3 separate regions of the Homo sapiens genome follow, and all the other regions are linked to region 1. Evidence: fine-mapped expression QTL. A gene starts in region 1. Each other region holds a variant in brackets. All regions are shown on one strand. Distances are between the middles of the regions.

Region 1 (2,756 bases):
TCTTCACAGGCAAGTCCTGGATAGGCAGACCAGTCTTTAGGCTGACCAGAGAAACCCACTCCAGAGGGAAGGGAGAAGGGTGATGAGGCAGCGGCTGGCTCCTCAAGCTGAGGGCTCCTCAAGCTGAGGGCTCCTCACCTGGGACAGGGGATCCTCATTCAACAGGGAAATGACTGAGCTGAAAGTCTCGTTTCTGTTGTCTGGATGGTTTTGGGACAGAGAAGAAATCATGGCTGAGCCCTGAGTGAAGGCTGACTTGGGCTCCCCAGCACCTGGAACCTTGGTGTCCACTGGGCCACAGTCCTTCCGCAGCAGCACGTGTCTTCCGAGCTCATCCAGGACTTGGAAGCTGCAGAGCTGGAGGGAGAGGAAGAAGCTGCTCTGGGGGCCTGGATCTGGATCTGGGGAGCAAGATCTGGCCAAGATGGAGCTGGAGGCTCCTCAGATGAGAGCCACCCCTAAGGCAATCACCCCATCACAGTGGACAGTGAGGCACGGCCTGCACCGGGGCATCCTCCCCTTCATAGCATCTTGGTTTCCAGCCCTCGGGGCCTGGGAAGTGGCTCAAGGTGGGGCAGCAGCTACCTCAGATCCCTGCGTCTTGACCTGACCCGTCATCATCCAACTGCTGCTTTACTCGGCCTCGGGGCGGGGAACCCCAAGAGCCTCATCACTCACCAGGGTTTTCTTGGACACGGGGAGCCGGCACACCATGGGGTCGTTGCAGGGTGGCTCCTCCAGGGTGGCCTCCAGGGAGTACAGCGACCCCTGACCCGCCTGGAGAGAGGAGTAGGTGAGGCGGGCACAGTCGGCCCTTGACGGCGCCCAAGGCCCCGCCCGTGCGGCGCTGCCCATTCCCCATCACCAGAGATCGGTTCGTCCAGCGGGCAGGCCCCATCCCAATGTTAGGTCAAAGCTCCTATCCCTTGGACCCGGGCCTGGCGCCCCCGCCCCCGGCGCGTCCTCACCCGGCGGACGCGGCCGCGCACAAGGCCCAGCACGGCCCGCGTCCCCGCAGCCCGGCCGCGGTTGAACATCTCCAGCGCGAAGCGGGTGGGCGCCAGCAGCTCCGGGGACGGCGGCCCCCAGGCCTGAAAGCTGGCGGCTCGGGGCTGGGCGGGGGCGGCCACTGCGCCCGGGAGCAGCCCCAGCAGCGACAGGAGCTGCAGCCAGGGCGCCATGGCGAGGGCGAAGCCGGCGGCCCGGACCCAACAGACGCTCCACCGACCCACCGGGTACCGAGCCCGCGGCCAGCGGGGCCTGAGTCCTCCCTCCAGCGGGGCGACGGCACGCCGACCAATGGGCGCTGGTTTGCGGCGCCTGCGCGTTCTCTTGTTTACAGGAGGCACGTGGGGCGCGCAGGGTAGGGAGAGCGGGAGGCTGCTGGCCTGAGGCTAAAGCTAGTCACTGACCTCTATCACGTGCTTGTTATATGTTAGGCATGATATGCCAGCTCCTTTTATTCGGCGTAGCAATCTCTGAAGTAGGTGCTATCCCCATCGTACAGTGGAGGAAACGAGGCTTGGAGAGATTAAATGGCGTGGCCGGGCTCTGTGACTCAGCCCTGTAATCCCAGCACTTTAGGAGGCCAAAGCGGGTGGATCACCTGAGGTCAGGAGTTTGAGACCAGTCTGGCACACGTGGTGAAACCCTGTGTCTACTAAAAATACAAAAAAGAGCTGGGCGTGGTGGTGGGCGCCTGTAATCCCAGCTACTTGGGAGGCTGAGCCAGGAGAATCACTTGAACCCAGGAGGCAGAGGTTGCAGTGAGCTCAGATCGTGCCATTGCACTCCAGCCCAGGCGACAAGAGCAAAACTCCGTCTCAAAAAAGAGAGAGAGAGAAATATTAAGTGGCTTGCCAAATATCTGGTAAGGAATTGAGCTAAACTTAAATCCAGGCAGTTGGCTTCTGAGCCTGGGTTTGCAGCTTGATCGCCTCTTTCAGGCCCCTCTTCTCAACAGCGAGATGGCAGGTAATTTTTTGAGTGCTGGCAGCGTCTCAGGCTGTTGTGAGGTTCAAATGCAATCATGCAAGCATTCAGTAGCCACTAAGGCAGGGTGCACAGGGTTGAGACTGTCCCTTGAAGCATTCACCTGCTGTGTTCCAGGGTCTACCAAGGGAAAGCATGCACAGATGCATTACAGGAATAGTGCTGCGTTCTTGGAGCTCACAGTCTAGAGAGAAGAACGACAGATGGGCTGGGTGCAGTGTCTCACGCCTGTAATCCCAGCACTTTGGGAGGCCGAGGCGGGCAGATCACCTGAGCTCAGGAGTTCGAGACCAGTCTGGCCAACGAGGTGAAACCCCGTCACTACTAAAAATATTTTTAGGCCGGGCGCAGTGGCTCACGCCTGTAATCCCAGCACTTTGGGAGGCCAAGGTGGGCGGATCACGAGGTCAGGAGATGGAGACCATCCTGGACAACATGGTGAAACCCTGTCTCTACTAAAAATACAAAAAAATTAGCTGGGCATGGTGGCACGTGCCTGTAATCCCAGCTACTCAGGAGGCTGAGGCAGGAGAATCGCTTGAACCAGGGAGTCAGAGGTTGCAGTGAGCTGAGAGCGCACCATTGCACTCCAGCCTGGTAAGACAGTGAGACTCCATCTCAAAAAAAAAAAAAAATTGAAACTGCCTTTGCAAAATTATGACAGTAAGAGAAATCTGACATGGCTGACTGCATCTTGCTTTCTAGCCTCACAGGCTGGCTGTCTTCACTCATTCCTGGGCATGGGCCAAGGTAACTTTTGGATA
Region 2 (2,756 bases), 78 kb before region 1:
GACCCTCTCTAGGTCTTTTTGTTTTTGTTTTTTGAGACAGAGTCTTGCTGTATCGCCCAGGCTGGAGTGCCCAGGCTAGAGTGCAGTGGTGCGACCTTGGTTCACCGCAACCTCTGCCTCCCGGGTTCAAGCAATTCTCCTGCCTCAGCCTCCCCAGTAGCTGGGATTGCAGGTGCCCATCACCATACCTGGCTAATTTTTGTATTTTTAGTAGAGATGAGATTTCGCCATTTGGCCAGGCTGGTCCTGAACTCCTGACCTCAGGTGATCCGCGTGCCTCTCGGCCTCCCAGTGTGCTGGATTATAGGCGTGAGCCACCGCGCCTGGCCCCTGTCCAGGTCTTTGCACAATCCATTCCCTGCTTCTCATGCGGAACCCCCTCCAGCCTCTCCTTGTCCCCTGGCCACCTCCTCCCCATCCTCTAGGCCATGCATGGACTTGCCTTCCCCAGGACCTTTCCCTATCTTCCCATAACTGAGTCTGTGCCCTTCTTTCTTCCCATCGGCACATTCAGTAGCTTCCCTGACTACAAGCTCCCCGAGAGGAGGGCCTGTGTGTTTCATCCACTGTTGTCTCCCTGGTGCCTAGCGCTTGGTGGATCCGAGCATCCACTGGGGAGATGATGGCAGATGTGGGTTCAGAGGAACAGGAGTGGATCTCACTGGAACATAAGCTGGGCCTATACTTAGAGTACAAGATGCAGTTTCGGGCAGTGGTTGAATGTGGCCCTGGAGCCGGACTGCCCGAGTGGGTCATAATCTATTGCTGTGGAACAAATGCTCCGCAAATTTAGTGATACAAAACCACCTTTTCATGCTCATGGACTCTGGGTCAGGAATGCAGGTGGAGCACAGTAGGAACAGCCGGTCGCTGGGTGACCATGTCTGGGGCCTCAGCTGGGAAGACGACAGCTTGGGGCCGCAAGCATCCCCAGGCTTGTTGACTCACACGCAGGTGCTGGCTGCCGGCTGGAACCCAGCTGGGCTGTTGACTAAAATACCTCATGTGGCACCCTCCTATTGTTCGTGGTAGCTGGGCTCCAAGAGTGAGCATCCCAGGAGAGCCAGGCAGAAGCCTGCTCACCTTGTGTGACCTGGCCTAAGCACATGGTGTCCCTGCTGCTGAAGTCACAGCCTTCCTGGCTTCAGGAGGAGGGAACACAGATCCCACATCTCCATGGGCAAAGTCACAGTTGAGCTGGATATGATGGCTCACACCTGTAATCCCAGCTACTCAGGAGGCTGAGCCAGGAGGATCGCTTGAGCCCAGGAGTCTGAGATCAACTGGGCAACCTTACAAGATCCTATCTAAAAAAAAAAAAAAAAAAAAAAAAAAAAGGCAGTAAGACAGGAAATACTGTGGCTATTTTTGCTTGTTTGTTTGTTTTTACATAGCCTTGAAGTATATTTTATTGATCAGAGACAACAAGGAAAATACAGTAGTGTGTAAGCATCCCATTGCTTCTGTAACAAATTACCACAAATTTACTGGCACAAAACAACACAAACTTATTCTATTACAGTTGTGGAGGTCCAGAGTCTAAAAGCAAGGCTGGGCCGCATTCCTTCTGGAGTCTCAGGAAGAACCTGCTTCCTTGCCTTTTCCAGCTTCTGGAAGGCTGTCCAGCCCCCCAACTTCACTCCAGCTCCCCTCTGCTATCGTCACAGCTCCTCCTCCCAGTCACCCTCTTGTCTCCCC[A/G]TGGGACTGTCGATTACATTTGGGATGTGGCTGTCTTTTTAAATCCAGTCTGCCACTTGCTATCCACTTAAGCTCTCGGTGCCTTAGTTTCCCATCGGTGAAATGGAAATGATAATGTCCGCCTCCTCCCAGAGTTGGAGTCAGGCTTAAAGGAGTTAACACACGGAAAGCACATGTTATGTGATACATATATTTTTGTTTTTTAGTTTTGGGGTTTTGTTTTGTTTTTTTTGTTTTGTTTTTTTTTTTTTTGAGATGGAGTCTCTTCTCTGTTGCCCAGGCTGGAGTGCAGCAGCACGATCTCAGCTCACTGCAACCACTGTCTCCCGGGTTCAAGCGATTCTCTTGCCTCAGCCTCCCGAGTAGCTGGCATGACAGGCACCTACCACCATGCCCAGCTAATTTTGTATTTTGAGTAGAGACAGGGTTTCACCATGTTGGCCAGACTGGTCACGAACTTCAGACCTCAGGCGATCTGCCCGTCTCAGCCTCCCAAAGTGCTGGGATTACAGGCGTAAGCCACCATGCCCGGCTGATATATATTTTTTTGAAGTTGAGAGTTTATGCTCATGTCTGTTGGCTACAGGGAGCCATTGAAAATCTTAGAGTGAAAGAGTGCTATGGGGAAAAGCCGGCTGAGGTGTCTTACTCAGGCCTTTTCTCTGAGTGAGGCCTCTTACTCCAGCCTTTTCTCTTGAATGACACCTTCTTTCCCCAGAGCCTTCCCTGGACTCTGAGGTGACTTCCAAGCTGAAGAGCTATGAATTCCGGGGAAGCCCTTTCCAGGTGACCCGGGGGGACTACGCGCCCATCCTCCAGAAGGTGGTGGAGCAGCTGGAGAAAGCCAAGGTTGGACTGGCTGGGGGCTGAGGGGTGCGGGCTGAGGACCCCTCTGGGCAGCAGAGCGGGTGTGGAGGTGGGTGGGTGGCCCGAGGCTGACCGACCCCCGCTCACCTCAGGCCTATGCAGCCAACAGCCACCAGGGGCAGATGCTGGCCCAGTATATAGAGAGCTTCACCCAGGGCTCCATCGAGGCCCACAAGAGGGGCTCCCGCTTC
Region 3 (2,756 bases), 35 kb before region 1:
AGGCAGAGGGTGCCCCGCAGGGAGCTGGTGGCTCCAGCCCCACTAGAGCTCCTAAAGATCACACAGCAGCTGCTCCTGACAGGGATGCTCATGCCCAGAAAGCAAGCCCAGGAGAGGAAGGCAGAGTGTGACAGAGCAGAGCCAGGGCCAGGCGCACCAGGAGAGGCGTTTCTGGGGCTCCAGAGAAGTGCCACGGGAGGCAGAAGTCCAGAACTGCCCATATAGATGCCCTTCTACATCCTGGAGCCCAAATCAGTCATGTGGGTGGGAAGTTCCCAGGGCAGTGGTCACATCGTGAGAATTAGCAGGAAAGGCGGGGCCTTTCTTGTCATAGCTATTTCTGAGGATGAAATGGGAGACATATGCCCAGCACCTGATGTAAGTTTATATAATGTAATATTATGTACCTACCACTAAGAAATACATGAACCGTGCCATGAGGACAGTAAGTGTTCATAAAGCAACATGAAGCAAGAAACAGTGCAGGGTGCCCAGTGCACACACTAGAGAGAAATTGTGAACATTAAGGACAAGGAGAATTGGTGTCTTTCTAAAACATACTTATTTAAAAACACATACCCACTTACTAATGTGGAATTACACAGTTTGTAACAAGAAAACAGTCTCTCCCATTCTCTAGTACTGCTCCCCTACCCAGCAGTCACTTCCAGTTCATTCAGCTATTTTTAAAATGTGCTTATATGACTCTTGCTTGATATATCAATCTTAGACATTACCTGTTGACTCCCTGTTGTCATACATGAGGCTTTAGCTCTCTTTTGTCAGCAACCCTCCCCCATCCCTAGTTATTAGGTTAAAAAATACTCAGATTACTATTTCTATTACTATGTGAAAGTTAACTGCGGAGCCAAGAGTTGGACTATAATTAAATTACCTTCCTTGTACTTTCTTTTTAATGGAGTTAATGAGTTGCCCTGAGTTTCTCATTTACTTTGTTTTCTGATGGACTGATTGCTAATTCTTCCCCCACCATCTGACAGCTCCTCTTTTTTCTAGACACTTCCCTTCATCCCCTGCTTCACTGAGGACTGTTTGTTTTCCAGGTAAATTGCCTTTGCCTCTCTCCTGGGCTAGATCCTGATTCCTGGGCCTGATGGCTTCCTATTTCTCAGTTCACCCTCATTTGGTGAAACATATCCTCAAATATCTTCTTTAAAAAGTCATGGCCAGAAGGCTGGGCACTGTGGCTCACGCCTGTAATCCCAGCACTTTGGGAGGCCGGGGCAGGCGGACCACCTGAGGTCAGGAGTTTGAGACCAGCCCGGCCAACATGGTGAAACCCTGTCTCTACTAAAAATACAAAAATTAGCCAGGCGTGGTGGCAGACACCTGTAGTTCCAGCTACTTGGGAGGCTGAGGCAGGAGAATCGCTTGAACCCGGGAGGCGGAGGTTGCAGTGAGCTGAGATTGTGCCACTGCACTCCAGCCTGGGCAAAACGAGCGAAACTGGCTGGGCGTGGTAGCTCACACGTGTAATCCCAGCACTTTGGGAGGCCGAGGCAGGCAGATCACAAGGCCAGGAGTTCGAGACCAGCCTGGCCAACATGGT[G/A]AAACCCCATCTCTACTAAAAATACAAAAACTAGCCAGGCATGGTGGCAGGCGCGTGTAATCCCAGCTACTTGGAAGGCTGAGGCAGGAGAATTGCTTGAAACAGGAAGGTGGAGGTTGTAGTGAGCCAAGATCGCGCCACTACACCACTCTAGCCTGGGCAAGAGCGAAACTCTGTCTCAAAAAAAAAAAAAAAAAAAAAAAAAAGCGAAACTCTGTCTCAAAAGAAAAGAAAAAAAAAAAAGTCACTAGAGGCCGGGTATAGTGGTTCACACTTGTAATCCCAGCCCTTTGAGAAGCCAAGGCAGGAGGATCGCTTGAACCCATAAGCTGGAGACCAGCCTGTGCAACATGGTGAGACCCTGTCCCTACCAAAAAAAATAAAGTCATTAGAGTTTTTAAAGATTTTTTTCATTTATTTTATTTTATTTTATTTTATTATTTGTTTTTTGAGACGGAGTCTCACTGTGTCGCCCAGGCTGGAGTGCAGTGGCGCGGTCTCGGCTCGCTGCAAGCATCACCTCCCAGGTTCACACCATTCTCTTGCCTCAGCCTCCCGAGTAGCTGGGACTACAGGCGCCTGCCACCATGCCCGGCTAATTTTTCGTATTTTTAGTAGAAACAGCGTTTCACCGTGTTAGCCAGAATGGTCTCGATCTCCTCACCTCGTGATCTGCTAGAGTGTGCTGGCGTGATCTCGGCTCACTGCAACCTCTGCCTCCCGGGCTCAAGTGATTCTCCTCCATCAGACTCCCGAGTAGCTGGGATTACAGGCATGCACCACTGCACCTGGCTAATTTTTGTATTTTTAGTAGAGACAGGGTTTTACCATGTTGGCCAAGCTGGCCTTGAATTCCTGACCTCAGGTGATCCGCCTGCCTCAGCCTCCCAAAGTGCTGGGATTACAGGCATGAGCCACCACACCTGGCCTGGACACAACTTTTGTTTTTGTTTTAGTTTTTTTGAGACAGAGTCTAGCTCTTGTCACCCAGGCTGGAGTGCAGAAGCACGGTCACAGCTCACTGCAGCCTCGACCTGCTGAGCTCAAGCCATCGTCCCACCTCAGCCCACCCCCATCCCCCACACTACAGACGCACTACCACACAAGGCTTTTTTTTTTTTTTTAAGACACAGGGTCTCACTATGTTGTCCAGGCTTGTCTCAAACGCCAGGCCTCAAGTGATCCT

Evidence for each region. PIP is the estimated chance that this variant, and not a neighbour inherited with it, causes the effect. A credible set is the group of variants that fine-mapping cannot tell apart.
Region 2: its variant is the best candidate, but not a certain one, in a credible set for the expression of CTSF in esophagus muscle (GTEx, PIP 0.50).
Region 3: its variant is the best candidate, but not a certain one, in a credible set for the expression of CTSF in whole blood (INTERVAL, PIP 0.81).

Annotation. Positions count from the first base shown.
Region 1 is chr11:66,567,306-66,570,061 of GRCh38, forward strand. It overlaps CTSF (cathepsin F), which reads right to left and starts at 1,301. Exons shown (of 13, transcript NM_003793.4): 1 at 969-1,301; 2 at 679-777; 3 at 139-357; 4 at 1-16. The coding sequence starts at 1,181. RefSeq lists a silencer at 1,350-1,419.
Region 2 is chr11:66,488,837-66,491,592 of GRCh38, forward strand. It overlaps DPP3 (dipeptidyl peptidase 3), which reads left to right. Exons shown (of 18, transcript NM_130443.4): 7 at 2,417-2,547; 8 at 2,658-2,756. Among named protein-coding and RNA genes, the nearest start is that of DPP3, 9.8 kb to the left of the region's middle. RefSeq lists an enhancer at 2,083-2,756. The variant A/G (reference allele first, on the strand shown) is at 1,699.
Region 3 is chr11:66,532,694-66,535,449 of GRCh38, forward strand. It overlaps BBS1 (Bardet-Biedl syndrome 1), which reads left to right. Exons shown (of 17, transcript NM_024649.5): 17 at 1-905. It also overlaps a transcript of ZDHHC24 not described here. Among named protein-coding and RNA genes, the nearest start is that of ZDHHC24, 12 kb to the right of the region's middle. The variant G/A (reference allele first, on the strand shown) is at 1,571.